6 separate regions of the Homo sapiens genome follow, and all the other regions are linked to region 1. Evidence: fine-mapped expression QTL. A gene starts in region 1. Each other region holds a variant in brackets. All regions are shown on one strand. Distances are between the middles of the regions.

Region 1 (5,024 bases):
ATGTTTGCAAGGTGATTCTTTGAGATAATTGGTCTCCACCTTTCTTTTTTTTCCTATTTAATTTTTATTATAGGTTCAGAGCTACATGCACAGGTTTGTAGGCCAGGTGCAGTGGCTCACGCCTGTAATCCCAGCACTTTTGGAGGCTGAGGCGGGTGGATCACGAGGTCAGGAGTTTGAGACCAGCCTGGCCAACGTGGTGAAACCCCATGTCTACTAAAAATACAAAAAATTAGCCGGGTGTGGTGGCTGGCACCTGTAATCCCAGCTACTCAGGAGGCTGAGGCAGGAGAATGGCTTGAACAGGGAGGCAGAGGTTGCAGTGAGCTGACTGTGCCACTGCACTCCAGCCTGGGCAACAGAGCGAGACTCTGTCTCAAAACAACAACAACAACAAAAAAACCAGGTTTGTTACATAGACAAATTGTAGGCCATGGGGTTTGATATACAGATTATTTCATCACCCAGGCAATAAGTATAGTACCTGATAGGTAGTTTTTCAATCCTCTCCCTTTTCCCACTCAATCTCCAACTTTATTTTGCCCCCGACTTGGAAAGCCTTTCCTTCTCCATTTTACCTAAATTAATCTCAGACTCTGGTTAAGACCTGTTTAAGTTCTAACCCATGCTTTCAAAAAACATAATAGATCTCTTCATTTTCTGAGGTCTGGCTTCCATCTGGCAATTTGCCTGTTATTTCCCTCAGTAGTTTGTTAGTTCCTAAAAAGCAGAAACCATGCTGATATTGTGTGTCTTCTTACCATGACTAACAAGTGTTACATTTCTTTTAAAACAAGGAAGCAAACTACAAAGCACCAAGTGCATGATCTTAATTTTATTTATTTATTTATTTATTTGAGATGGAGTCTTGCTCTGTCGCCCAGGCTGGTCTTGAACCCCTGGGCTCAAGTGATCCTCCGACTTCAGCCCCACAGAGTAGCTGGGACTACAAGCTCACGGCACCACTCCGGGCTAATTGTTGTTGTTGTTGTTGTTGTTGTTTTTGAGGCGGGGTCTCTCTCTGTCACCCAGGCTGGAGTGCAGTGGCAGGATCTTGGCTCACTGCAACCTCTGCCTCCTGGGTTCAAGTGATTCTCCTGCCTCAGCCTCCTGCGTAGAGGGGACTACGCATCCACCACACCCGGCTAATTTTTGTATTTGTAGTAGAGACGGGGTTTCATCATATTGGTCAGGCTGGTCTCGAACTCCTGACCTCGGGTGATCCACCCGCCTCGGCCTTCCAAAGTACTGGGATTACAAGCGTGAGCCACCGCGCCCCGCCTGAAAGTCTTTATGTTGTAGTTGTTTTGTATCTATTCCTCATCTTCCTGGGGACAGGGATACCATTTTACACATCTTCCCACAATCAATCACAGTGTTTAACAATTACTGTATGTACTCTATGAATAAGATACCTGAAGATTGATTCTCTTTATCGTTAATGTGTGGACTGTATCAGGCAAAGTAAAACCCCTATCATCAAAAGCCTAAAGTTATTAAAGGGAGTGGAAGAAGGCTATCGGGACATATTTTTCTCGAAGGTGTGACATCACAAATAAAAGAAAATTAACGTATAGTGAAATCATCACTGTAGTTAGAGTCAAAATGCCTTGCCTGTGTTCCAAACTTTGGGCCAGTCAACCTACAGGGTGCACGGTTTCCTCATTAGTTTCTTCAGAGAGTAAATGAGACATTGCATAAGCTAGCACCTAGCATACAGCAGGCAAATACTGCTGGATTTCTTTCTTCCACTAAATGAGAAGAAAATAATGACTCCCACATTTACACGTTTTAGAATATTTTATTTTGCGTCAGCGAATAGAGAAAACAAAGGAGGGATGAGAGAACAGGAAAGGAAAGGGGCAAAAAGACAAAGTGTTAAGCGGATTGACCCAACGCTTTCATCGATATCCTCCTCAATTTCCTTGATCTTGGGTCTCGCTCTACACGCAGGCCTCCAACCACACCGGTCTGTCCGGATCTCCCTCCCCGTCAGTGGCGGCTGTCCCCACCACGCGCGGTCTGATCCGCCACCCCGCCCCCACAGCCCACTTTTCCCAGGCCCTTGGCCATCCCGCGCCCGGTAGGAATTCACCTGCACGTAAACAGCCAGGGCAACCGTCCTCCCTCCTTGGAGCCCGCCTCCCGCGGCCCCGGGCTCCCTCCCCCGCCCCCTGCGCCACCCCGGTGCCCCGCCCCGGGCGGGGAGAGTCGGGGCGAGGGGAGGGCCTGCCAGGTGAGGCGCGGTCACCCTGGGCCTCTCACTTCCGCCCAGGTGAGGCAGGGCCGACACCGAGCCCGCCCGACCCGGGCTCCCACCTGCTCCTCCAGCGCACCAGGTAAAGCGTGAGGTCCCGGCTGTGCAGTGCGCGCTCGCCCCTGGGTGTCCCCGCGCCTGGAGGCCGGCCGGGGGCAGCTCCCTCGGGGCTTCCCGGGCCTGCCTGCCCTGCCCCCGCGCTCTCCCCGCCCGCCCGCCTGGAGTGGGTGGGAGCCGGAGGTGGAGGGCGCCGCCGGGCGCTCAGAGGGGCCGCGGCGAGGATGGGGCGCCCGCGGCGTGCGTCCGCGCTGACCCGGGAGGCGGGGCGGGGGCGCCGTCCTCCTGCGTCGGGCCCGGGTGACCCCACGGTGGTCCCCGCCCCGCCGCGCAGGGCTCGCCGAGGCCGCGGGCAGGGAGGGGCGCCGCCCCGCCTCCCCAGGCCTTTCGGGCCTCGAATCTCGGCCCACTGGTATTCGGGGGTGGCACGGATCCTATTTTGCGCCCAGATCGGTGCCCCTGTTTCGCTCCCAGAGCTGGGCGGAGTCTTTCCCTCCATCGGTGGCCGTGGAAGGAGGGAACGGGGTGAGGGGACAAAGAGGAGGGGGTGCTCAGAGCCGGGCTGAGGGGGCGACTTGGGCCCGGCCGCGTCGCGGCGCCTGGTCATCCCGTAGCGGAGGTTCCCAAGCCAGCGGTCAGGCCCTGGGCTCTGCCAGCCTTGCTGCGTAGATGGGGAGGTTCTGTCGGAAAGTGCTTCCAGCCTTAGGGGAAATTCCTGGACTCCTGCTTTTAAATCAAGCTCAGGAAAGCATTTTCAGATCACTCCCACTCTCCAAAGCGCCCCAGCCGTCCCGCACGCAGGCCGAATTAAGTGAACACCCCTTCACTTGGCACTTTGTCATATTTCCAAGTGGCTCTTGTCACTTTGAATTCCAGTTGGTTGTTTACTGGCTTGCCTCTGCCATTTAGAGGGTGCCCCTTTCAGGGCCTTATTTTTCGACTGCATTTAGGGTCTGGCTATTGGTAGGTGCGCGACAAGTGTTTCTTAAAGGAAGGCAGAAGCCTTTGGAAACCCAGAAGGACAATGTCGGTTCCACTGAGGATGATACTACCACATTCTGGGCTAAATTCCTATTGGCTGCAAATTAATTTGCACACATCTATTTGAAAGGAGTGGAGGCAGGGGCAGCGGTTAAAAACTTAAATCTGTTTGCAGCATTAGAAAATGTTAGGTGAGATTGAGCCTTTTAGCTAAAGTGAGCTTTGATGTTTTTAGGGCCCCTAATGGCCTTTAAGATGTTAACAATAACAACAACAACAAAACACTCCAAATGTGTTGAATTTATTTGGGAATGAGAAATGAGCGTTATAGCCCGAGGTGCACAGGCCTGGCAAGCCATATATGCATGGAAGAGGGGAGGGTAAAAGGAAACTTTTATTGGCAAAGTAAGTGCAGATAAGCTGCGTGAAAACAGAGTTTATTGGTTTTGCAGACTGAAAGCCAGAGTTGGCCATTGTTGAAGATGCCATTACTGGGCAGGTGTTATGGAGAGCATCTTATCAGGCCTGGCAACCTGCCTCATGCCTGTTATCTCAGCTACTTAGGAGGCTTAGGCAGGAGGATCGCTTGAGGCCAAGAGTTGGAGACCAGCCTGAGCAACATGGCTGTCTTTACAGAAAAAGCTTTTTAAATAGTCAGGTGTGTCGGGAGGTTGAGGCAGGGGAATTGCTTGAGCCCAGGAGATGGAGGCTGTGGTGAGTGGTGTTTGCACCACTACACTCCAGCCTGGGTGACAGAGCAAGAACCCTGTCTCAAAAAAAAAAAAAAAAAAAAAAGGAAAAAAGATTATCTTATCTTATCTTATCTGAATTACTGCATTCCTAAAGAAAGAATTTCTTGGGTGGTTATTTTAGTTCCTTCTTGAGACCGATCTTTATCTCAGACTTGCAAGCATGAGCTTTCTCCCTCAGGCTCTCTAGTTTGTTTGGGTTTGACAAAAAGTGATTTTGACCTGGTATCTGCAACTTTCACAAAGATAATAACAAAGTTAATAAATATGGAAATACTTATGGATAGAACTTATAAAATGAGTTCTGAAGAGATTTGCCCTTACTAGTCCAGATCCTATTAGGAGTAAGAGAAAAAACACAAACTTTTTCCTCTGCTCTCACACCACTACAGTCAACACTGAGGACTTCTGTGACCAAATAAATGTGTGGGCCCATCAGTTCTGCATCAAGCAATAGCTGAGCATCTAACAGTTCGATTCTGAAACTATTTACCTGGGGATAGTGTCAGATCCCATAAGACTGCCCTCACTTCTGATGCCAATCACAAGTCCTAGATTGTTTTACCCCGGCTTCTGACTAACCACCTATAAATTGGGAATCCCATAACTCCCTCCTCTGGGTTGGTTAACTTGCTAGAGCAGCTCACGGAACTCAAGAAAACACTTATTTAGGTTTATTACTAGTTTATTATTAAGAATATTACAGAGGATACAAGAGGAAGAGATGCACAGGGTGAGGTATGAGAAGGGGCATGCCACCCTCCAGGAACCTCCATGTGTTCAGATATTGAGAAGCTCTCCCTACCCCATCTTCTTGGGCTTTTTATGGAGACTTCATTGAGTAGACATAATTGAAGCATGGGGTAGGGAAACCCAGCAATGCCTATCTGTTCAGATTTTTCTTGGCCTCTCTCTGTAGCATTCCTTCCTCCAGGGTATGGGCAGGACCCCTTCTTATGGGGGTCTTATGACCTACAATC
Region 2 (5,024 bases), 130 kb after region 1:
GAGAATCTCTGACCTCCCCTACAAGTGTTTACACCACATGTTTTGTACAGATAAGGGAACCTGCACAGGGAGTTTGCCTAGGCATGCCCACAGCAGGCTGGAGACCCATGCACTGGGGGGAATGGGGTGGAGCCACCAGGAATTTGTGTCTTATGCAGGGGAGGAGCCTGGCCTCTTCAGCTGCTGTGGGGTGGCCCAGGTATTCAATTTGGGATGTGAAAATCTGCTTGCGGGACCCCCTCTCTTTGCTGAGAGCTTTCTTTTTGCTTAAAAATTCCACCCTCCTCACTCTTCAGTGTGTCCGTGTGCCTAATTCTTCCTGATCATGAGACAAGAACCCAGATTAGCTGAGTTAAGGAGCAAAAATTCTGCATCAGTGAGGGCCCCCTTTCTGGTTCATAAATGTCATCCTTTAGCTGTGTCCTCACAGGGTGGAAGAGTGGAATGAGCTCCCTTGGGCCTATTTTATTTATTTATTTATTTATTTATTTATTTATTTATTTATTTATTTTTGAGACAGTGTCTCTCTGTCACTCAGGCTAGAGTGCAATGGCCTGTTCTCAGCTCACTGCAACTTCTGCCTCCCAGATTCAAGTGGTTCTCCTCAGCCTCCCAAGTAGCTGGGATTACAGCCATGCACCACCATGCCTGGCTAATTTTTGTATTTTTAGTAGAGACAGGGTTTCCCCATGTTGGCTGGGCTGGTCTCAAATGCCTGGTTCAAGTGATCCACCTGCCTTGGCCTCCCAAAGTGTTGGGATTACAGGTGTGAGCCACCACACCCAGCCCCTTGGGCCTATTTTATAAAGGCACTACTAATCCCATTCACCAGGGCTCTGCCCTCATAACTCTATCACCCCACAAAAGTCCCCACTTCTAAATATCTTCACCTTGGGGGTTAGGATTTTAACATATGAATTTGCAGGGTCAGGGGAAACATAAATATTTTAGCATTCTGGAAGATTGTGACTTTGGAAAACCATAAAAAACATGTATATAAAAGCAAGATGGGAGGAAAATGCAGTTAAGTTATCAACAGCACTTATCTGTAGGTTTTAGGTTTTAGGTTTGATAACTTAGGTATTCACCAGGCAGATAAGAGTGCTAACAAACGCTTATAGATATGAAAATTTATCACATATTTTGGAGTCAGCAAGGAAGCTATTTATTTGTAGATATCAGAGCAACACAATCCAGGAGGCTGTGTGTATCAGCAGTTGACCTTGCTTGACTTGATAGATCTTTTATTCCTCTACCTTGGTAAATGTTTATTTAAATCCACTTATTAATGCTTATAAAACAGTTTTTTTGGTTAAAAATCCAAGTTTTAGAATAAACAGATTTTGTTAGCCTATACTCTTGCAGATATTGTTACCAGCATTTGTTACTGCTTACCACAGTATAAACCATTACTTGAGAATGCCTGTTTGCAAGGCCAGTTTTCCACTATCATTATTACTTGGCTTGATCAACTGTACAGTAATACATTTTTTTCATAAAGTACTAATGCATTTCTATTTTTCTTCCTCTCAAGATGAAAGAAAATTTTGTCATGGAGTCCCTACCATCTGTACCATCAACTGAAGGAAACAGTCAACAAGGCAGATTTGACGACCTGGAAAATCTTAATTCATTAGCAAAAACTAGTCTGGATTTAGGTTTGTGACTTTTGTTTCTCATAAACACAAATTACATTATTTTGCAAGCTTTCAGTTTTATGTTTGTATACATGAATTTCACCGTCATATTTTTATTCATTATGATGCTTTGAATTTATGTCTGCTTAATAATTAATCTGCTTCAGAATTACCTGAAAGAATAAACATGCCTCAGATTTCAACTTAGAGTTTTCAGATTCTGTTTTTTGAGAAGGCTACATTTTCTCTGCCTCATGTTGCATTTTATTAGCAGTATGGATTGAAACTCAGACTAGAACCTTACACCAAATCTGAAATAAGTCTCTACTAATATATATTAAAATCTCTGATGCTCTTAAGTAATATTGCTAGCTCATTTAATGGGACTGTTAAATATTAATAAAGAGAGGCATATTTTAAACATTTATGAAACATTTTTATAGCCATATATTACAGTCAATTTTAGTACATTAATAACTTAGTTTCCATTAAAGAATTCTAAAAGTATAGTGCCTCTCCCTGCTGCCCCTCAATATCGATTCTTATATATGTTTGAAAAGTTGACTTTAAAAAAGAATTTTTCTTCATCTAACACTAAAATATTGAATGTCATTATAAAATTGACATCCCTAGGGAGATTGTTAAATGCTTTCATAGCACTGGGATTTATAGAGCCATTGTTGAGGATTTATGCTGTCCTTCACTTGTTATGACTACTTAAAAGTCTTTCTCTGTGTTGTATAGTAATATGTTGTAAGGGGAGAGAGGGCTGTAGAAAGTGATGTAACAGTTTTATATGAGATTAGGATTCTATTAAGTAAATTCTAAAAAATGGAATACTTAAGG[G/A]TAAAAATTGAAGGCGTCTCTGAGATGATAACATACAGTTTCCTGTGGGTCAAAACAGAGCATGGAAAAAAAAAGACAGAGTATGAATACTTAATTTTAAATATCTAAGATTAGATGAATCTACCCAAGTTTTCAAGATCATGACTAGAAGAAAAATGGGACTTCCCAAAATAAAACTCTCCAGGTATATTGCTTTCTAAAATTCACCACATTTCTTATAGTTCTCTATTAAATAGTTGGAGAAGATTTATAGCACAAATGTTTGAGTAAATGAATAAATAGACCATATCTGTTTCATTACTATTAATACTGTAGCAAACTTAGCACGATTTTGGACCAGATGAGTCTTTTGGTGGGGGTGGGGTATCCTGTGCATTGTAGGATGCTTAGCAGCGTCCCTGTCTTCTAACCCTAGATGCCAGTGGCACACCCTCTCCCAGTAATGATGAAAATCAAAATGTCTCCAGATGTGGCCACATGTATACTGTATAAACCACTGGTTTATACTGTCAAGATCAAAAGAAATAGACTAGCTATATGGGCTGGTGTTTGGGTGGAGGAGCAGTGGAATAAGAGGCAATCTTAGATTTATCTGCAGAACAATGAATTTAGAAATCATTGTTGAGAACCCCTGTGTAAAGAGATATTCTTGACCTTTTGGTTAATCCAAAATTGTGTATCTTTGAAAAGCATATACTCTTCATGGGTTATAAAACTAAGCATTTAAATTTGCATAATTAATAATGTAATTATTGACATTATTGCATTGAGTAATACACTTAGTGTTACAAGATTTTGGAAGATTTCAGACAGAAGGCAGTTCTGTTTCCCAGGCTTTGCTCGAAGACTGGGTTGTGCCATTTGCAAATCCAAATTGATTTTGTGTTATTGTCAAGACTCAGTGCACATGCTTACTTGCAGGCCTGTCTCTTAACTACACACTAAGCTTCAGGAGGGTGAGGACTGTATCTGATTATATTCACATAGTAGGTGCTCAAGAAATATTTACTGAATGAGGAAATGATGTACTGCTCACGTGGTTATTCAACAGCATATCAGTTCATTACTTTTTTTTTTTTCAGTTGCTAAGTTGTATAGTAACCCGATCTCTTCTCTACTTTGGATTCTGCTTGCCTTTATTTTGTTATTCCATTCTTGCATCTCATCAAATGTAGACCTTTAGAAAATTTCCTCCATTCCTCTCCTATAAGCATTAACTTCTGATATGGTTTGGCTCTGTGTCCCCACTCAAATCTCATGTTGAATCATAATTCCTAGTATTGGGGAAGGGACTTGGTAGGAGGTGATTTTATCATGAGAGCAGATTTCCTCCATCTGTTCTCATGATAGTGAGTGAATTTTCAAGAGATCTGATGGTTTAAAAGTGTGTGGCACTTCCCCCTTTGCGCATGCTTTCTCTCCTACTGCCATATGAAGACATGCGTGCTTCCCCTTCACTCTTCTGCCATGATTGTAAGTTTCCTGAGGCCTTCCTAGCCATGCCTCTCGTACAGCCTGTGGAACTGTGAGTCAATTAAACATGTTTTCTTTATAAATTACCCAGTCTCCGGTAGTTCTTTATGGCAGTGTGAGAGTGGATTAATACAACTTAAATCCTAGAGCATTTATTTTTTAAAAATCTCCCTGTTTTTCTAACCTCTGTACCCCTGTTATGACCATTACCTGATTACAGAGGCCCTACAGGACTCAATCTTTTTCATGGGCTCCTGGGTTTCTCTGTGCACTTGGTGGACAGCTCTGTAAAGTGTAACTGCGTGAAGCGCTGTGACAGGTTAGAAATGTGTGCCTGTGCACTGACAGGGTCCATGGAGGAGGCAGTGGGGCAGAGGGCACAGGTAGCCTTTGTGTGGAGCAATTCATGAAGTTTTAAACTGCACCAACCTATGCAACTTAGTGGTGTAGTTTAACAGACTGCTTTTTCCAGTGTAGCTGGATGGGACATAGAGAACCAGTTTCCTGTTCTGAAAACTCTGGTTTTAAGCCATTCCTGCCTGAGCACCAGTCCTGCCCTGGTCCTTCCTCCTCAGTGTCCTCAGTGAGGGGGAGGCAGACATCAGCAAAGCTGGAACAGTGGGGCAGTGCTTTGATTGTCATATGGGAATGGAGGCCCTCAAGGATGGGAGCAAAGGGGAGTATGGGGATGGGGGAAAGGTAACTGAGACTTCCGTTAATCCCACCTGAGCATGACAGTATTTTCACCCCATATCTGCAACATTGCCAACTGATTGGACCCTGATTCCAAAGTTTCTAGATGAAATAAAAAGCAGAAGTGGTAGTGAGTTTACCAGAAAATTTGTTCAAGATGAATGCATGGAAAGAGTTTCAGTGATGATTATAGGAAAAGTTTTAGGCTGGGTGTGGTGGCTCACACCTGCAATTCTAGCACTTTGGGAGGCCAAGGCAGGAGGATCACTTGAGTCCAGGAGTTCGAGACCAGCCTGGGCAACATAGGGAGACCCCATCTCTATTTAAAAAAAAAAAAAAAGTTTTAAAAGAGTATCTACATTGCTTAGTCAGAGG
Region 3 (5,024 bases), 430 kb after region 1:
GCACCCAGCCCGTCTTCCATGTCTTTTCATGACTTGATAGCTGATTTCTTTTTAGCACTGAGTTATACTCCGTTGTGTGGATGTACCACAGTTTATCCATTTACCTACTAAAGAACATTTTGGTTGCTTCCAAGTTTTGGCAATTAGGAATAAAGCCACTATAAACATGTGTGTGCACAGCCTGAATTTGTAAGTTTATTTCAGTTTTCCCTCAACACAACCACAAGATTTGGTTCCACAATACAAGCACAAGATTTAAAAAAGATTAAAATAAAGAGTAGAAGAAAACAAACAAATGAAAAAAGGACACATCTTTTGGATGTAGACAAAGAAGACCTAGTCTATCCACTCACCGTATATCTCCACATCCTGGGAAGAATTTCCAAGGCCAGGCACTCTGGATACCCTCCCCCCTCATGGTTTAAACCTTCTTCTTCTCTAGATAGACATAGTTGATGACAGATGAGGTGTTTCAATGGCTCCTCCTGCCTAATGGCTTTACTGGGCATGCCCCCAGCATTACTCTCCCAGGAGAACAGAAGAAACGGTAATGTCTTAAAGGGACTCCATCATTCAACTCCTCTCAACCCCAGAGCCATGTGTTACTCTTTGGGGAACTTCAGGATAGCTGTCTGAAAACAGTCCAGGGAGGCTAAAGTGGAGGATCACTTGAACCCAGGAGTTCGAGATCAGCTAGGGCAACATAGTGAGACCTGATCTCCACAAAAAGTAAATTAGGCTGGGCTCAGTAGCTCACATGTGTAATCCCAACACTTTGGGAGACTGAGGTGGACGGATTGCTTGAGCACAGGAGTTTGAGACCAGCTTAGGCAACATGGCAAGACCCTGTCTCTACAAAAAACACAAAAATGAGCTGGGCCTGGTGGCACACCTGTAGTCCCAGCTACTCCGGAGGCTAAGGTGGTAGAATCACCTCAGCCCAGGGATATTGAGGCTGCAGTGAGCCTTGATCGTGCACTACAGCCTGGGTGACACAGTAAGGCCCCTATCTGAAAAATAATAAATTACTTAAAAAATCAGCCTGGCACAGTGGCACGCACCTGCAGCCCCACCTACTTTGGAGGCTGAGGTGAGAGGATCGCTTGAGCCTGGAAGTCGAGGCTGCAGTAAGCGATGATCACACACTGCACTCCAGCCTGGGCAACAGAGTGAGACCCTGTTCCTCCTCTCCCACTCCCCCCAAAAAGAAAAGAAACATACTCCAGTGGCCCCCATGCCATGAGGAATAAGATTCACCTGTTCTTAAAGACTGAGAGCAGAAACTTCCTGTCCAACATTGTATTAGTTAGTGTTCTCCAGAGAAACTGAACCGAGAGGATTTGTATGTATTCAGAAAGATTTATCATAAGGAATTAGCTTTTGCAGTTACGGATGTGGGCAAGTCCAAAATCTACACTGTGGGCCAGCAGGCTCAAGACCCAGAAGATAATTTTCTGTGAAGAATGTTTCACAGCTGGGCATGGTGGCACGTGCCCGAAGTCCCAGCTACTCCAGAGGCTGAGGGTGGGAGGATCACTTGAGCCCAGGAGGCAGAAGCTGCAGTGATCTGAGATGGCGCCACTGTACCCCAGCCTGGGAGAAAGATCGAGACCCTATCTCAACAACAAACAAAGCAAACAAAAAAAGGAACATTGATCTCATCCAAAAACACCCTCCAAATTCACAGATCAAGCATCAGACATCATGAGACCTTGAACAGACCCCTCTAGGGACGGCCTTGCCTTAGGGAAAGTGCAGAAGTGTCCACTATCCTTGTTTACAACCCCTTTCCAGCCTCCCGCCCCCTCTGGTGTCCACAACTGTGGTGCAGTCACCATCATCACTTCTACCATCCCAGAACCCTCAGGAGCAGATGGCTTGAGATCTTGCCTCTGCCACCCCACCACCCAAGGACCCTAAGTATTTGTATACCTAATTAGGTGGCTTCTCAGTGGACTCAGGGTCAAGTCTAAACTCAGCATGGATGTTAGGCTCTTCATAATTTAGCTTCCACCTTAACCTCCAGCAGTCGTGTTAACTCTCGTCTCACTAAGCACTTATCCCAGGA[T/C]AAGCCGGACTCTCACACCCTTAGGCCTTTGCGCACACTATCCATTGGCATAGACAGCACTGCTGCTCAAGATGTGACTGCAGACCACCATCATCAGCATCACCTAGGAGAGGTGCAAATGTATGCCCTAGCCTAGACCAACTGCATCAGAATCTCTGGGGTAGGGCCAAAAAATCTGAGTTTTAACAAGCTCTTCTGGTGATTCTAAACACTAAACTTTGAAAGCCTGGAGAACACTCCCCTTTTTTTCCAGTCTGTGGTCATTCACAAATTGCCGAGTTCTTTTCTGCCTCCAGTGGCTAAAGGCAGAAAGAAACACAAGGCTCCTTCCTTGCTGCCTTGCCACTGGAGGTATTTTACCTGTTAGAACCAGTCTCAGACTGAGTCTGCACCTGTACGAACTTTTTTTTTTTCTTGAGACAGGGTCTCACTCTATTGCTTGGGCTGGAGTGCAGTGGCGCGATCATGGCTCACCACAGCCTTGACCTCCCAGGCTTAGGTGATCCTCCCACCTCAGCCTCCCCAGTAGCTGGAACTACAAGTGCATGCCACCACACCCACCAAATTTTTTGTACTTTTAGTAGAGACAGGATTTCGCCATGTTGCTCAGGCTGGTCTTGAACTCCTGGGCTCCAGTGATCTTCCTACATCAGCCTCCCAAAGTGCTGGGATTACAGGCGTGAGCCAGCACACCCAGACTGAACTTCTTTCTTTTTTTTTTATTAAAACAGGGTCTCACTCTGCCACCCAGGCTAGTGTGCAGTGGTGAGACTAGGATTCATTGCACCCTCGACCTCCTTGGCTCAAATAACACTCCTGCCTCAGCCTGCTGAGTAGCTAGGACTACAGGTACACACCACCACAGTGGGCTTTTTAAAATTTTTTGTAGAGACGAGGTCTTACTATGTTGCTCAGGCTGGTCTAAAACTCCTGGCCTCAAGCGATCCTCCCACTCAACCTCCCAAAGTGCCAGGATTACAGTTATGAGCCACCATGCCCAGGTGTATGAACATTTGTTAGCAGACAGGTACAACACACAGCCCCACCTGTCCAAAAAGCACAAACCTGACAGGGTGCGGTGGCTCATGCCTGTAATCTCAGCACTTTGGGGCCGAGGCGGGTGGATCACTTGAGGTCAGGAGTTTCAGACCCGCCAGGCCAACATGGTGAAACCTCGTCTGTACTAAAAATACAAAAATTAGCCGGGCTTGGGGGCGCCTGTAAATCCCAGCTATTCGGGAAGCTGAGGCAGGAGGATCTTGAACCCGGAAGGCAGAGGTTCCAGTGAGCTGAGATTGCACCACTGCACTCCAGCCTGGATGACAGAGTGAGACTCGGTCTCAAAAAAAAAAAAAAGAAATAGCACAAACCTGCTGCTCTTTTTAGGGCAGTGGTTCTTAACCTGGGCTATTCATTCAAATCACCTGGGGATATTTTAAAGGCTCAATGCCCAAGCACACCCCAGAGTAGGGGGAGAAAGGGAGAAATCTAAGAACCGGTATTTTTTTTTTTAAAGCTCCTCAAGGAGTTACAGGAAATTTCACTCCCAGGCAAACAACATTCAGACTTGAAGGGGTGGCCAGTCCCTCCACACCTGTGGGTATTTCTAGTTGGGTGGGACGAGAGACTGAGAAAAGTAAGACACAGAGTCAAAGTATAGAGAAAGAAAAGTGAGCCCAGGGGACCGGCGCTCAGCATACCAAAGACCTGCACCGGCACCGGTCTCTGAGTTCCCTCAGTTTTTATTGATTATTATTTTCACTATCTCAGCAAGAAGAATGTGGTAGGAGAGCAGGGTGATAATAGGGAGAAGGTCAGCAACAAAACATGTGAGCAGAAGAATCTGTGTCATAATTAAGTTCAAAGGGAGGTACTATGCCTGGATGTGCAAGTAGGCTAGATTGATGTTTCCCTCTGCCCAAACATCTCAGTGGAGTAAAGAATAACAAAGCAGCATTGCTGCCAACATGTCTCGCTTCCCGCCATAGGGTGGTTTTTCTCCTATCTCAGAATTGAACAAATGTACCATCGGGTTTTATACCGAGACATTCAGTTCCCAGGGAAAAGGCAGGAGACAGTGGCCTTCCTCTATCTCAACTATAAGAGGCTTTCCTCTTTTACTAATCCACCTCAGCACAGACCCTTTACGAGTGTCGGGCTGGGGGATGGTCAGATCTTTCTCATCCCACGAGGCCATATTTCAGACTATCACATGGGGAGAAACCTTGGACAATACCCAACCTTCCAGGGCAGAGGTCTCTGCGGCTTTCCGCAGTGCATTGTGCCCCTGGTTTATCGAGACTAGAGAATGGCGATGACTTTTACCAAGCATACTGCTTGTAAACATTTTGTTAACAAGGCACATTCTGCACAGCCCTAGATCCCTTAAACCTTGATTTCATACAACACAGGTTTTTGTGAGCTTAAGGTTGGGGCAAAGTTACAGATTAACAGCATCTCAGGGCAAAGCAATTGTTCAGGGTAAGGTCAAAATGAAATTTCTTATATCTTCCCTTTCTACATAGACACACTAACAGTCTGATCTCTCTTTTCCCTATAAGACCTTTTTGCTTTTTTTTTTTTTTTTTTTGAGATGGAGTCTTTCGCTCTTGTTGCCTACGCTGAAGTGCAATGGCACGACTTCTGCTCACTGCAACCTCCGCCTCCTGGGTTCAAGCGATTCTCCTGCCTCAGCCTCCCGAGTAGCTGGGATTACAGGCATGCACCACCATGCCCGGCTAATTTTGTATTTTTAGTAGAGATAGGGTTTCTCCATGTTGGTCAGGCTGGTCTCGAACTCCCGACCTCAGGGGCCTCAGCCTCCCAAAGTGCTGGGATTACAGGCGTGAGCCACCAGCACCTGGCCCAATATTCAGATTTTCTATCCCATCAGATAACCAACTAACTCTTCCGGAAGAGATGAGACCTTGAGAGAGGGAATGCAGAGCTGAGAATT
Region 4 (5,024 bases), 310 kb after region 1:
GGCTCATCATCTGCTTTTCTGTTTTGTAGCCCAGCACTTCCAGGGTTAGACTACAAATTCTAGAAGAAATGTAGGCTTTTTTCCCCTCTGTGTTTAAAAATGTCCTACAAATCTCAAAGAATTAATCACTTAGGAGTGTCATCTAACTCTGATTTTATGACAGCCCAGAGTTGTTCATTTTACTTCAGGGCATTTGAGAAATCATCCATTTATCCTCTTTCAGGTTTTGGAAAATATATCTTGCGACTGCCACAGATTGCATATCCTAGAAAGTGAGCTTATTCTGGCTGAAGGGAAAGAATGTTTCAGCAAGAGTGGAAATTGTAATGGGCCACTCATGAATAAACCCTACATGGGACCTGAGACCCCTGGCATGAAGAGTACTAGCAGTTTATTTACCAGAGATTGACTAAAAAAAAAAAAAAAAAAATGACCGGGCACAGTGACTCAAGCCTATAATCCCAGCACTTTGGGAGGCCAAGGCGGGCAGATCACCTGAAGTCAGGAGTTCAAGACCAGCCTGACCAACATGGAGAAACCCCGTCTCTACTGAAAATACAAAAATTAGCTGGGCGTGGTGGTGCATGACTCTAATCCCAGCTACTCGGGAGGCCGAGGCAGGAGAATCGCTTGAACCCAGGGGGAGGCAGAGGTTGCGGTGAGCCAAGATCACGCCATTGCACTCCAGTTTGGGCAACAAGAGTGAACCTCCGTCTCAAAAAAAAAAAAGAAAAAAGAATAATGGCAGTAAAAAATTATGATTTCCCTTTCCAAAAGGTAGAGTGCATTTTTGCACTACAGGGAAATGAGGAACAGCAACAAATTTCAAACCGAAAGCCCCTTTACTTAAAAATATGTTAACTTGTTCTGTTTGGCACTATATCTCCATAGTCAGGTTAGGGGAAAGTCTTTTAAAGCAACAGAATTTTGTAGGTAGGCATCCCCAATTTCATCCACAGAGGAAATGGTAAAAAGAGTGAGAATACTCTCTTGCTTGCTGGAAGAATCTGGTAGTCCCAGCCAGGCTCATGTGCAGGCCAAAGGTAAAAGCCATCCATCATCCACTCCCAGTTCCCAAGTAAGCAACACCAGTGACAGGGCTGCAGGTGTCAAGACAGTTGAAGAGGCAGAGGGCCTGGAGGCCTGAGGGTCATTTTTAGATAATGTTTCATACTGCACTTCACCAACAATTGAAGGCTTTCCCATACCCATTGACTAGTGTCTGTCTTTTTCCACTCTGTTCCCTTCCTTACCCACCATCTGTCCTTTTGGTTCTGGAGTTTCTTAATCACTGTTTGCAGTAGAATCTCTGCATGTTCTAGTTCAGAAAGGAAAGATAGCCTGAATTTGGACAACTTTTATAGCATAAATATAAATGGCCTGGCATAAAGTATTATTTAAGAGTGTCTGGCCGGGCACAGTGGCTCACGCCTGTAATCCCAGCACTGTGGGAGGCCAAGACAGGAGGATCACCTGAGGTTGGGAGTTCAAGACCAGCCTGACCAACATGGAGAAACCCCGTCTCTACTAAAAATACAAAATTAGCCAGGCATGATGGCGCATGCCTGTAATCCCAGCTACTTGGGAGGCTGAGGCAGGAGAATCGCTTGAACCTGGGAGATGGAGGTTGCAGTGAGCCGAGATCGCGCCATTGCACTCTAGCCTGGGCAAGAAGAGCGAAATTCCGTCTAAAAAAAAAAAAGTGTCTTGAAGAAGTCACTTGACCTCACCAAACCTCAGTTTCCTCAGCTGAGGAATGACGGTAATTAGGATGCTATTAGGAAACAAAGGGGCTATAAAATATAAATCACACAGAAGAATATAGGGCAAATAGAGCTTAGTAAATTCATTTCATTCATTCAACAAATATTTGCCAAATACCACTATGTTCCAGGTACTGAAGATACCGCAGTGAACAAAATGTACAAAAATGCCTTCCCTCATGGACTCATTCCACAGTTGGAGGGGGAAGGAAGATAGACAGTACATCAATTAGCAAAATGTTGGATTGAATCATATGAAATTGCCATTTTGGTAGGTAAAAATTTCATATGGTTCAACCTAACATATACATAAATGTCATTGTCTTGTAATGAAGTATTAATTCAAGACAAGCCTAGTTCCAGACCAGCCTA[G/A]GCAACATTGTGGGCCCCATTTTTATTTAAAAAAAAAAAAAAAGAAGAAATTAGCTGAGTGTGGTGACAAGCACCTGTAGTCTCAGCTACTCAAGAGGCTGAAGTGGGAGGATTACTTGGACCTGGGAGGTTGAGGTGGCAGTAAGCTGTGATTGTGCCACTGCACTCCAGCCTGGGTGACAGAGTGAAACCCTGTGTCCAAAAAAAAAAAAGTTATTTTCAGAGCTGAGGCTAAGCCGTGGCCTATGCATACTCCAGTGCTATTTTCAGTATATTCAGTTGGTTGGCTTTGGACTGTGTCTCAGTAGCCCTAGATGCATAGCCAAGGAGTTTATAATAATTTCAGAAGGTATTCCATTTCTTTAAAATATTTTTAAAGGGGGAAATAACTTTTTTGTAGATCAGTTGATGGTTTGTGAAACATAGATTCTGATTGTGAGAGACTGGAGGCAGGGAAGTGTCTGGTATCTATTTCAGAAGTCTAGATGAGAGCCTGTTAGAAGCCTTTTGAAAAGAACTTGAATGAAAGTACTTGCACAGAGCTTTCCAATTTGCAAAACAGTTTCATCTATAATCTCATTGGCTTAATTTTTTTAATATTTAAGTTTTTTCGCGGGGTACGGTGATTCATGCCTATAATCCCAGCACTTTGGGATGCCGAGGCGGGGAGATCAAGAGGTCAAGAGATCGAGACCAGCCTGGCCAACATGGTGAAACCCCATCTCTACGAAAAATACAAAAATTAGCTGGGCATGGTGGCGGGTGCCTGTAGTCCCAGCTACTTGGGAGGCTGAGGCAGGAGAATCGCTTGAATCTGGGAGGCGGAGGTTGCAGTGAGCTGAGATCGCACCATTGCACTCCAGCCTGGCAACAGAGCGAGACTGTGTCTCAAAAAAAAGAAAAAAAAATTTAAGTTTTTTTCTAAAATGGTGTTTAGTTGGTTTGTGATCTTAATCTTATCCCCAAAATAACCATATGTAAAGAGAAGGAGAAGAATTATTTATCCCAGATTTATAGATGAGACTTTATCTGCTCAGTGTAAGATCAAAAAACTGGAAATTGGGAGAAGTGGAACTCATTCAGAAAGCCTCATGATGTCCTGGTAGCTTGCTGACATCGGAGCTCAAGATCCCTAAAATAATTACTTTAATCTTTTGGGTATAAACTTGTGTGCTTATAATGTTCAGAATATCTATGTTCATATAATATGCTCTTTTGAAGTGGTATAATTAAATTAGTAAGAGTGCAATCACTGGAGCTAGACTACTTGGGTTCAAATCCTGGTTCCGCTATTCGCTAACAATTATAACCTTAGAGAAATGACTTAACCTCTCTGTGATTCAGTTTATGCCTCTGTAAAATGGGAGGAAAAATTAAATGAGTTGATAACAGTAAAGTACTACTTAATCCATACCAGAGTGCGCTGTAGTCACTGTCAAAGAGTGAATTGTTGTTAATGAGGATGATGCTGTCATTCTGATTAAAGCATTAAGGGGTAGCCATAGAAGGAACAACTATTCCAAGTGAAGCATTAAGATATAACTTGAAAAATTGAAGTGACTTTTTCAACCTGAAAAGCACAATTACTAATGTATTAGGGTTCTCCGAAGAGACAGAACCAATAGGATATATGGATATCTGAGAAGGGATTTATTAAGGGAATCGTCTCACGTGTTATGGAGCCTGAGAGGTCCCACAATAGGCTGTCTGCAAACTGGAGAACCAGGGGAGCCAGGAGCAAATTCAGTTAAAGTGTGAAGACCTGAGAACCAGGGGGCTGCTGATAAAAGCTCTGCAGTCCAAAGGCTGGAGAACATGGAGTTCTGATGTCCAGGGGCAGGAGAAAATGGTGTCCCAGCTTCAGAAAAGAGCGAATTCACCTTTCCTCTGCCTTTTTGTTCTACCTGGCCCTCCGCCAATTGGATGGTGCCTTGCCCAAACTGGATGAGGGTAGGTCTTCCTTGCTTGGTCCACTGCTTCAAATGCCCATCATTTCTGGAAACACCCTTCCAGACACACCCAGAAATAGTGTTTTACCAGCTAGCTAGATATCCCTTAATCCACTCAGATGGATACCTAAAGTTCACCATCATAGTTAATATATTATTCTAAGCTCTTTAACACATGCTAACTTATTCACATAACAATAGTAGTTATATAGTAGTATCATTTCCATGTAAGAGATAAAGCACTGAAATGTTAAATAAATTGCCTTGGAGCCAAGCACAGTGGCTCCAGTTTGTAATCCCAGCTACTCAGGAGGCTGAAGTGGGAGGATTAATTGAGGCCAGGAGTTTGAGGCTGCAGTGAGCTATGACCACGCCCCTGCACCCCAGCCTGGGTGACAGAGTAAGACCTTATCTCAAAAAAAAAAGTTGTGGCCGAGGCTGGTGGATCACCTGAGGTCAGGACTTCGAGACCAACCTGGCCAACATGGCGAAACCCCGTTCCTATTAAAAATACAAAAATTGGCTGGGCGTGGTGTTGGATGCCTGTAATCCCAGCTACTTGGGAGGCTGAGGTAGGAGAATCACTTGAACCCCAGGGGCGGAGGTTGCAGTGAGCCAATATCACACCACTTTACTCCAGCCTGAGTGAAAGAGCAAAACTCCATCTCAAAAATAAAAAATCACCCATTGAAGCCAGGGCTCAAATTGGAGGTTACTACACTTTGTTTTTTTTAAGTCTCACTCTGTCACCTGGGCTGGAGTGCAGTGGCGCTTTCTCAGCTCCCTGCTCTGCAACCTCCACCTCTGGGGTTCAAGCAGTTCTCGTTCCTTAGCCACCTGAGTAGCTGGGAATACAGGCATGCGCCACCAGGCCCGGCTAATTTTTGTACTTTTAGTTGAGACAGGGTTTCACCATGTTTGGCCAAGCTGGTCTGGAACT
Region 5 (5,024 bases), 380 kb after region 1:
ATCACTGAGCCCAGGAGTTTGAGACCAGCCTGGGCAACATGGGGAAACTCCGTCTCTACAAATAATTTCTTTTAAAATTAGACAGGCGTGGTGGTGCATGCCTGTGGTTCCAGCTCCCAGCTATTTGGGAGGCTGAAGTGGGAAGATCGCTTGAGCTCAGGAGGTTGAGGCTGCAGTGAGCCGTGATCATGCCACTGCACTCCAGCCTGGGTGACAGAGTAAAACCCTGTCTCAAAAAAAAAAAAAAAAACAAAAAAAAACAAAAAAAAAACGCCATTAGCTCTATAATAGTTAGCAACTCAACCTCAATTTTCTCATCTGTAGAATGGGGGTGATAACACTAACTCACCTCAAAGGTAAATATTATTGTGTGGATTACATGAGGTCATGAATGTAATGTCTTTAGCATAGCACCTAGTGCATCAGGAATGCCCAGGAAGTGGCTTCTGTTGTTATTAGCTACAGCTTTGACTAAATCTGCCTTATTTGTTCCCGGTATTTTTCCACCAGAGTAGCAACTCAAATGTTCCTATGATGGGGAAGTTAAATGTACCAACAGTATATATAATTATAGATAAATTAAGGAAACATCATGATGGATTTAAACAAAGCCAAAACATTATTGCATAAATTTCTCCTCTAAGATTTCAAAAATAATATTCTTTTATATTTCCTTAGTCATTTCAGCCACTTGTTTTTACAGGCTTTTGTAATAAAGCCTGCTCCTACCTACCCTATTCTACCACACGTGATCCAAGCATAAATTTCTTTCTTTTTTTTTCCTGAGACAGAGTCTCACTCTGTTACCCAGGCTGGAGTGCAGTGGTGCAATCTCGGCTCACTGAAACCTCCACCTCCCAGGTTCAAGTCATTCTCCTCCCTCAGCCTCCCAGGTAATTGGGATTACAGGTGCGTGCCACCACATCCAGCTAATTTTTTGTATTTTCAGTAGAGACAGGGTTTCGCCATGCTGGCCTGGCTGGTCTCAAACTCCTGACCTCGAGTGTTCCACCCACCTCATCCTCCCAAAATGCTGGGATTACAGGAGTGAGCCACCACACCCAGCCTCTAAACTTCTGCTATGCTGGTTTGGGTCTGTCTCACACATAAGCAGCCTGAGAGTTCTGTGGGTTCACAAACAGAATTGAGGATTCGTTTTCTTCAGCTTCCTCTTCTCTGCTTTTCTTCTCTTTCCCTCTTTCTTGATTCTTCTGCCCAGAAGGATGGAATTTCTATCTGAATGTTAGCATTCACCGTACCTTTCCAGCTCCTTGACTGGGAATCACCTTCAGGGTACAGCTGCCAGGAAAAAAAATAAAACTGGGAACTTCCCCTGCTGCTGCCATTTCTCCAAGTTTTGACTCTCCACCATACTTTATTTGGTTTCTTTTTGTTTCAGAGGCCACAGGTAGTTGTTTTTTACATTTTGACTAGACATCTTGATTGTAACCAGCAGGAGAGATACGCTGTCACGTGCCTGTGCTGCCATGCCAGAACTGGAACTTGTCATTTGTTCTTTTAGTGATTTTAAAAATATTAACCCTATGATACTAATGTGGGGAAAAAACTGGACTAGAGCCAAGTCTCTTCACCAGAGTCCGTCTTGGGGAACATTTTCAGCCACATTTTATGTCTGTCTTCAAACTGTTGTCACTACAGTGGGTGTCCTCTCAGATCCTTTGTTTTAACGCAGTCTTTTAAAGCCAAATGTGTTTGTTCACACCCAGAAGAGCATAGTATGTGTGGCAGTTTAATCATAAACACCATATGAGAACATACTTGCCAAGTCTGCATCGGAATTGGCCACTAAACTAAGGAGCTGCATAGGGTGTTGTGTGTGTGTGTGTGTGTTTAATTTACTCCTGCTATTGCCTTTTATTGAGCCTTTTCTGTAGGCCATGACAGTGCCATACTATCTCATTTAATGCTCAGACCAACACTGTCAGGTATGTAGTATTCTTCTCATTTTATACATAGAGATGGAGGCTTTAAGAGGTAGTCAGCCTAAATAACAAACAGAGAGGCTCTCTAAAGGAAAATGATGTTTATTCAGGAATGGGAATATGCGGGCCAGTTTATTCAGGAATGGGAATATGCGGGCCATAGTAGACTATGTGCATATTCAGGGAGGTAAGGAAAATAAAAGGTTTTAGAGGACAAAATGAGAAATATATAATTATTTTGAGATAATTATCCTTGGCTACAAAGATTAATAACAGGGGTGACACACAGCCCAAGGCTGGACAGGCATCTGCTGGACAGATGCACTTGTAGAAGTATTTTTTTATGAAAGGTTGTGATGTCCTTCCTGCAGGGTTGTGGTTTTTGCAGTC[T/C]TTTGTGATAATTTTTGTTATCAGGCATACAAGCCTGAGAACTCTTTCTTCATAGCCTTTCCGGGCTCTATTGGTAAGGAATTTTTTTTTTTTTTTGACACAAATGACTCCATTTTGATTCTGACAACTTTCACAAGGTTAAGTAACTTCCCCCAAGACCCCACAGCTAATTAAGAGCTAGAGCTGGGGCTGGGTAGGGTAGTTCACGTCTGTAATCCCAGCACTCTGAGAGGCCAAGGCGGGTGGATCACCTGAGGTCAGGAGTTGGAGACCTGCCTGGCCAACATGGTGAAGCCCTGTCTCTACTAAAAATACAAAAAATTAGCCAAGTGTGGTGGCGCGCACTTGTAATCCTAGCTACTCAGGAGGCTGAGGCAGGAAAATCGCTTGAACCTGGGAGGCGGAAGTTGCAGTGACCTGAGATCGTGCCATTGCACTCCAGCCTGGATAACAAGAGCGAAACTGAAAAAAAAAGAGCTAGAGCTGTCTACTCCAAAGGTTCCACATTTAACTCCTATGTTATCCTGGCCTCCTACCTCATGGAGGGATTTTGTTCCAACAGCTATCTATCTAGGGATAGTCAGTTTGTGGCTCTTTATTAAATATAAAAGCATTATGTTTTCTTCCTTTTTTAGGAGCTCAGTGATGCCCTTGGAATCAGTATTGCTGGAGGAAGAGGAAGTCCCTTAGGAGATATCCCCGTATTTATTGCCATGATTCAGGCTAGCGGAGTGGCCGCACGGACACAGAAGCTTAAAGTAAACGAGAGAACTGGTTGAAAGACTAACAATATGTGTTGGGGTGGGAGAGGAAGTTGCAGCCCTGGGCACCTTGTTTAAAGTTGGAATTCCAGTAGCCATCAGAGACCCAGGCTGAGGGCAAGATGCATTAGATAAACTTGATACCTTTAGAAATTCATTAGGTCCCCAGGCACATAAAAATATTATTATTTGTATCAAAGCTTCTCCATAAAAGAAGAAATTGCAGCCCCTTTGCAAACCCTCCTTTACCCTTTTAAGCACCTCATTCCACCCAAAATCAGCTCTCAACTGAGAGACATTTGACCTTAGAGTCTTCCCTCAATCAAAAGAATCACCATTTTTATGATTTCTCCCCCTTGTTGCCCCTTAATCTTAACTTCAGTAGAAAAATATAGCAGAAAATATTTGGCTTCCTCATTAGAACTTTATTGAACGGTTGATGTGTACACTTCGCTTTTACTGGCAAATGGTTGTATGAAACACCACCATTACCAAAATACAAAAATGGCCTACTGTGCCTTTTAATAATCAAATGTGACCCCCTTCTTGTTGCTCTGATTTGTCTGTATTTGGGGAAAGCCAAAAAAATTCCTCATGCTTCTTGAACATGCATGCACGGTAGTAACGCAGAATCCTCACAATAGCCACAAATGGGAAATAGGACTCGCAAAGAATTTTAAGCATTCTTCTCAAATTTAATTTTTCTTAATGATAGTGATTTTCTGTCATTTTTGTACTTCCAGGTTGGAGATCGGATTGTCAGCATTAACGGGCAACCTTTGGATGGGCTGTCTCACGCGGATGTGGTTAATCTGCTGAAGAACGCCTACGGGCGCATTATCCTGCAGGTATTGCGATCAACGGAGCACGCAGCTGTGCAAGGCAGATAAGTGGCATGCAAAAAAGATTGAGCGTCACTGGCAGTAGACATCGCCACCCAGCAGGGTGCTTGCTGATGTGAATTACGAAGGTTGAAAGCAAGAAATTATTATTTTTATTCAGAAATTCTTTAATGCCACCCATACAGGTAGTGAGCATGATTATATGAAAGCATAACAAGGGGAGAAAAATTACTCTCTGCTTCACATGATAAATCAACACAGCTTTTAGTTTCCAGTGTTCTTTTGTAAATCAGAATTTGTAAGGAATAAGAAATGATTTCTTTTCTTATGCCCAAAGACTGTTACTGAACTGCCCAAGTGCTGTTTCTTCTTTTCCCCTTAAAGGAAGAGGAAAAATACAATGGTCTTTTTCCTTTAGCATAGATTGCCAACACTGTTAAATTGTCACGCGTAGCAGTCATCAACCAAGGCAGACAATTGTTTATCAGCTGTGGTCCCCAGCTGTATTGTTCAGAGGCACAAGGAAATATACCAGGATGTAAAAGCAAAGTGTGCTGTTAATTACCCCTGCTTATATTTTAGCCCTTCAGATGTCTCTGAGATTGACACCATGCAGTGACTGAGAGGCAGCATACTGGCAGTGAGTTTCATTAATGAGTTTCCCCAGAAATGTATGCTTACCATAGGTCTGCAGAGGTAATATAAAGTGGTTTATAGGTGGCTAGGCGCGGTGGCCCACGCCTGTAATCCTAGCACTTTGGGAGGCTGAGGTGGGCGGATCACCTGAGGTCAGGAGTTCGAGACCAGCCTGGACAACATGGTGAAACCCCGTCTCTGCTAAAAGTACAAAAATTAGCCAGGCATGGTGGTGGGTGCCTGTAATCTCAGCTACAGGAGGATGAGGCAGGAGAATCACTTGGACCTGGGAGAAGGAGGTTGCAGTGAGCCAAGATTGCTCCACTGTACTCCAGCCTGGGTGACAGAGTGAGACTGTCTCAAAAATAAAATAAAATAAATTAGTTTATAGGTATAAAGAATAAAGCCCACCACTTACTACCTTAGAGAGAGGGCCAGCCAGCCACTCATCA
Region 6 (5,024 bases), 390 kb after region 1:
ATAGTGGCATGCACTTGTAGTCCCAGCTACTGGCGAGGCTGGGGTGGGAGGATTGCTTGAGCCCGGGGGGCAGAGGTTGCAGTGAGCCAAGATCGTGCCACTGCACTCCGGCCTGGATGACAGTGAGACCCTGTCTCAAAATTAAAAAAAAAAAATTACATAAGTAAGTGAATAGGTGTGATTTTTTTTTAATTGAGGTAAAAAGTTGTTGGAAAGTATTAGAACTACAGAGGATTGAGTAGATTTTTAAAACACAGGAAACAAGTAGAACTTAGAAATGATGTAACAGTTAAGTGGAAGAGTTTGGCGAGCTAAATTTTCATCTCTTAGAGTAGGGAGTCAGTGGACACCAAGATAGTACATTTCAAAATAGGCATATAAGAATATTATTTAGCTTATTCTTTAGAATTAAAAAGAGAAAAGTTCAATGTGCTTCTAGGGAGGGCAAGTGTTGAATTTTTTTTATCATGTACTGTACTATTTCATTTTTTATTATGTACACACAAAAAAGAAATATTTAGAAAAAATAGAATATGGCCAGGCGTGGTGGCTCATACCTGTAATCCCAGCATTTTGGGAGGCCAAGGCAGGTGGATCACCTGAGGTCAGGAGTTTGAGACCAGCCTGGCCAACATGGTGAAATCCCATCTCTACTGAAAATACAAAAATTAGCCGGGTGTGTTGGCACATGCCTGTAGTCCCAGCTACTTGGGAGGCTGAGGCAGGAGAACAGCTTGAACCCGGAGAGTAGAGGTTGCAGTAGCCGAGATTGCACCACTGCTGTCCAGCCTAGTCGAGAGTGAGACACCGTCTCGAGAAAAAAGAATAGAAAAGAACCAAGAATATAGGTCTGTTTGAAAAGCAGCTAAACAGATTTGAGTAGAATGGTGCTTCTCAAACTTTAGCACGCTCTGGAAACACCTGGAGGGCTCCCCCAGCCTTTCTGATTTTGCAGGAGTGGAGTGGGATTCAAGAATTTGCTTTTTTTTTTTTTTTTTTTGAGACAGAGTTGCGCTCTGAAGCCCAGGCTGGAGTGCAGTGGCACAATCTCGGCTCCACTGAGCCTCCACCTCCTGGGTTCAAGCAATTCTCCTGCATCAGCCTCCCCAGTAGCTGGGACCACAGGCACCCACCACCATGCCCGGCTAATTTTTGTATTTTAGTAGAGACAGGGTTTCACCATGTTGGCCAGGCTGGTCTCAAACTCCTGACCTCAGGTGATCCGCCTGCCTTGGCCTCCCACAGTGCTGAGATTACAGGTGTGAGCCACCGTGCCCAGCCAATTTTGCATTTCTTCTAACAAGCTCCTAGGTATTGGTGATGCTGCTAATTCAGATCCCATGCCTCAGACCCAGTGGAGTAGAGCATTATTTAGGGATGAAAAAGGTCTCCCCACGTTATTCTCTTCATCTGAAACACCCTTCTCACCGTACTCTCGTCTTTTTTTTTTTTTTTTTTTAAGAGAGAGACAAGGTCTCATTATTGGCCTGCACTCAAGAGACTGTCCCACCTCAGCCTCCCAAAGTGCTGGGATTACAGGTGTGAGCCATCGCACCCAGCCCTCTCTTTTTTTTTTTTTTTTTTTCTTTTTACTTTTTGAGACTGAGTTTTGCTCTTGTTGCCCAGGCTGGAGTGCAATGGCGTGATCCTGGCTCGCTGCAACTTCCATCTCCCAGGTTCAAGCGATTCTCCTGCCTCAGCCTCCCGAGTAGCTGGGATTACAGGCATGTGCCACCACGCCCAGCTAATTTTGTATTTTTAGTAGAGACGGGGTTTCACCATGTTGGTCAGCCTGGTCTCAAACTCCTGACCTTAGGTGATCCGCCCGCCTCAGCCTCCCAAAGTGCTGGGATTACTGGTGTGAGCCACCACGCCCGGCCTCTTTTCTTTATAAATATTGGAAAATCCTTTGTTTAGAAACTCTCCATCGAAGAATAGGGAGTGCCTGGGTGTTGATGTCCTTCCAGACCATGGTTCTCCAAAGCTGGAGAAATCTGTGTCTGTGCCTCGGGCGCAGGCCTCGCCCAGAGCAGATACCTCCTCAGTGCTGCCCACATGGAGTTGCTGAGCCATTCCAATCAAGCTGAAGGACATGAACTAATAGGGGAACAAATCAGCACAGTTACCAATGTAGTCCAGAAAAATTCCAGGAGGGGAGGAAGACGGATGGCTTACCCAGGGTTGGAAATGGAAAAGGTGTGTCATTGAGGGTGCAGAGCAGGCGCGTCATGGCCTATGTGAGTATCACTAAAGGAATGATCTGCTATTAGGTCTTTACCTTAGTTGCATAATAAAATCACTGATTTTAATACCTGTTCCTGGGCCCCACCCCAGAGGTTCAGATTTAATTTTTCTGGGATATGGCATGGACATCAGATGATTTTAAAATTTCTCAGGTGATTCTAATATGCAGCCAGGGGTAAGAAAAGTAGTCTCCAGGGTTTGCAAATAAAAAGCCAACTAATGCTTAGGCCAGGTG[T/C]GGTGGCTCACGCCTGTAATCCCAGCACTTTGGGAGGCCGAGGTGGGGGGGATCGCTTCAGGTCAGGAGTTCAAGACCAGCCTGGCCAACGTGGTGAAACCCCCTCTACTAAAAATACAAAAATAAGCCAGGCATGGTAATGCATACCTGTAATCCCAGCTACTCAGGAGGCTGAGGCAGGAGAATTGCTTGAACTCGGGAGGCAGAGGTTGCAATGAGATGAGATCGCGCCACTGCACTCCATCCTGGGTGACAGAGCGAGACTCCGTCTCAAAAAAAAAAAAAAAAAAAAAAAGCCAAATTAATGCCATGAAGACAGTGATAAACTGCAGGAAAAGGACAAAGACCCAAGGTTTGAAAGTTGAAATGAACACCTAGCCCAAGTTAGGTAGGAGAGGTAGGCTGTAGTGTCAGAAAGTCGTGAGTTTGAATCCTTTTACTAAAGTCTCACCTTCTATTCCTCTAAAACAGGGACTGTGGAGCTCCTTTCTTAAAAAGGTTGCTCTGAGGATTAGATGAAGTGTGATGTAAAGTGTCTAATAAATACAGGATGTTGCAAATGATAAATACTAAGTGGTATCTTATTACTTTCATTGTACTAACATAGGCTTGAAGTTAGAGGATACTAAAATTCCTTTATAAAATCCTGGAAGTGGAGTGGTTTTCCAGGTGGCATTTGAGGTGTGTGCCACTAGGTGGCAATGTGGCTGGAAGTCAGTTTGCCCTTTTCGAATTTTACTCCAAGTGCTTCACACTTCTTCAGACCATTAGATTTTTTTTTTTTTTTTTTTTTTTTTTTTTGAGACAGAGTTTCGCTCTTGTTACCCAGACTGGAATGCAATGGTGCAATCTCAGCTCACTGCAACCTCTGCCTCCTGGGTTTAAGCAATTCTCCTGCCTCAGCCTCCTGAGTAGCTGAGCTGGGATTACAGGCTCACACCGCCACGCCCGGCTAATTTTGTGTTTTTTGTAGAGATGGGGTTTCTCCATGTTGGTCAGGCTGGTTTTGAACTCCTGACCTCAAGTGATCCGCCCATCTCGGCCTCCCAAAGTGCTGGGATTACAGGTGTGAGCCGCCACGCCCAGCCCGATCATTAAATTTTTAACAGACACATAAAAATCAATATATTCTGGTGTCACTAAAATCAGGGTCACTAGATTCTGGACAAAAACTTTAAGCAGCTGTGCTTTCTATTTCAGTAAGTTACACCAAAGGCCAGGCATGGGCTTTTCTTGTGTGTGTGTGTGTGTGTGTGTGTTTTTCTGTAATGTGTCCCCATCTTAAGATGCCAGCTTTCTCAGGGATCACCTTAACTTTACAGCCTTCCTGTTTGTTTTCAACATGTGTGCACCCATAGTTTGAGGGTCCAGCTGCATGTAAGTGCTGAGGATTTTTATGTTTTGCGTGTGTGTGTGTGTGTCTGTGTGTGTGTGTGTGTGTGTGTGTGTCTGTGTGTGTGTGTGGTGTGTTGTTTTTTTGAGACAGGGTCTCACTCTGTCCCCCAGGCTGGAGTGCAGTGGCACAATCATGGCTCACAGCAGCCTTGATCTGCCAGGCTCAAGCAATCCTCCAACCTCAGCCTCCCAAAGTGCTGGGATTACAGGCATGAGCCGCCACACCCAGCCAGTGCTAAATTTCAGATTTGGTACTGAAAGGCTTGGGTCCTAATAAGTCTAAGGGCTAATCATCTTCTTTCGCAGGAACCTTTAGGAGAGTTCTAAGCAAGGAGCTCAAGCTTTTATGCATTGTAATATCTTTCTTATCTGGAAATTATTTTGACTTCTCAATTCTCCAAAACATAATACCTAAACCTGTTTTTAAAGAAAGATACTCAACCTAGGTCCATGCAGTAAAGACCTCTACTTTATTACTCATTTCGAAAGCTTAATAAATACACAATATTTCACTGTAGAACATATAGTTCTAATTAAGTTTAATGTTCCTTTTACCCTAAGTTATTAAATGCAACATGGAGGCAAAGCACAAGAGAGTACATGAAAATAAATATCTTCTTAAAGGAAAACAGTGGGGAAGGTGGCACAAATTAAGGAAATTCACATCAGAGGGAGAACCCTGTTGGAGAAACAGTGAGGGGGAAACCCATTGGCAGAAGGAAACATGGAATAAGTGAGTTTCGTCGGAGGGGGGAACATAGAATGAGGGGGAACAGCAGCCTGAGGGGTAAATGCCTCTGGAGGGGGGAACACAGAGTGAGGGGGCACAGCAGCCTGAGGGGGAAATGCCTCTGGAGGGGGGAACACAGAGTGAGGGGGCACAGCAGTCTGAGGGGGAAATGCCTCTGGAGGGGGGAACACAGAGTGAGGGGGGACAGAGGCCTGAGGGGGAAATGCCTCCGGAGGGGGGGACACAGAGTGAGGGGGGACAGAGGCCTGAGGGGGAAATACCTCTGGAGGGGGGAACACAGAATGAGGGGGGATAGCAGTTTGTGGGGGGAACACAGATTGAGAGGGAAGCAGGCTTGTCTGTTCTTCCACAGATGCAAACGTCTCTAACTGTTCCGTAGGCGCAGAGGACAAGGCTGCA

The links. PIP is the estimated chance that this variant, and not a neighbour inherited with it, causes the effect.
Region 2: its variant is the best candidate, but not a certain one, in a credible set for the expression of PATJ in whole blood (INTERVAL, PIP 0.77).
Region 3: its variant is the best candidate, but not a certain one, in a credible set for the expression of PATJ in lung (TOPMed, PIP 0.58).
Region 4: its variant is the best candidate, but not a certain one, in a credible set for the expression of PATJ in testis (GTEx, PIP 0.62).
Region 5: its variant is the best candidate, but not a certain one, in a credible set for the expression of PATJ in blood mononuclear cells (TOPMed, PIP 0.69).
Region 6: its variant is the best candidate, but not a certain one, in a credible set for the expression of PATJ in T cells (TOPMed, PIP 0.90).

The regions. Positions count from the first base shown.
Region 1 is chr1:61,740,217-61,745,240 of GRCh38, forward strand. PATJ (PATJ crumbs cell polarity complex component) reads left to right here and starts at 2,264. Exons shown (of 44, transcript NM_001350145.3): 1 at 2,264-2,339. PATJ-DT (PATJ divergent transcript) reads right to left here and starts at 2,568. Exons shown (of 1, transcript NR_185910.1): 1 at 1,782-2,568. RefSeq lists a silencer at 2,016-2,725.
Region 2 is chr1:61,873,709-61,878,732 of GRCh38, forward strand. PATJ (PATJ crumbs cell polarity complex component) reads left to right here. Exons shown (of 44, transcript NM_001350145.3): 21 at 1,535-1,658. Among named protein-coding and RNA genes, the nearest start is that of MIR12132, 30 kb to the left of the region's middle. The variant G/A (reference allele first, on the strand shown) is at 2,484.
Region 3 is chr1:62,167,341-62,172,364 of GRCh38, forward strand. No RefSeq gene overlaps it. Among named protein-coding and RNA genes, the nearest start is that of L1TD1, 25 kb to the right of the region's middle. The variant T/C (reference allele first, on the strand shown) is at 2,069.
Region 4 is chr1:62,052,029-62,057,052 of GRCh38, forward strand. All of the region lies in intron 31 of PATJ (PATJ crumbs cell polarity complex component), which reads left to right. Among named protein-coding and RNA genes, the nearest start is that of MIR3116-1, 24 kb to the right of the region's middle. The variant G/A (reference allele first, on the strand shown) is at 2,136.
Region 5 is chr1:62,125,004-62,130,027 of GRCh38, forward strand. PATJ (PATJ crumbs cell polarity complex component) reads left to right here. Exons shown (of 44, transcript NM_001350145.3): 40 at 2,969-3,091; 41 at 3,838-3,942. Among named protein-coding and RNA genes, the nearest start is that of MIR3116-2, 49 kb to the left of the region's middle. The variant T/C (reference allele first, on the strand shown) is at 2,334.
Region 6 is chr1:62,132,765-62,137,788 of GRCh38, forward strand. All of the region lies in intron 41 of PATJ (PATJ crumbs cell polarity complex component), which reads left to right. Among named protein-coding and RNA genes, the nearest start is that of MIR3116-2, 56 kb to the left of the region's middle. The variant T/C (reference allele first, on the strand shown) is at 2,480.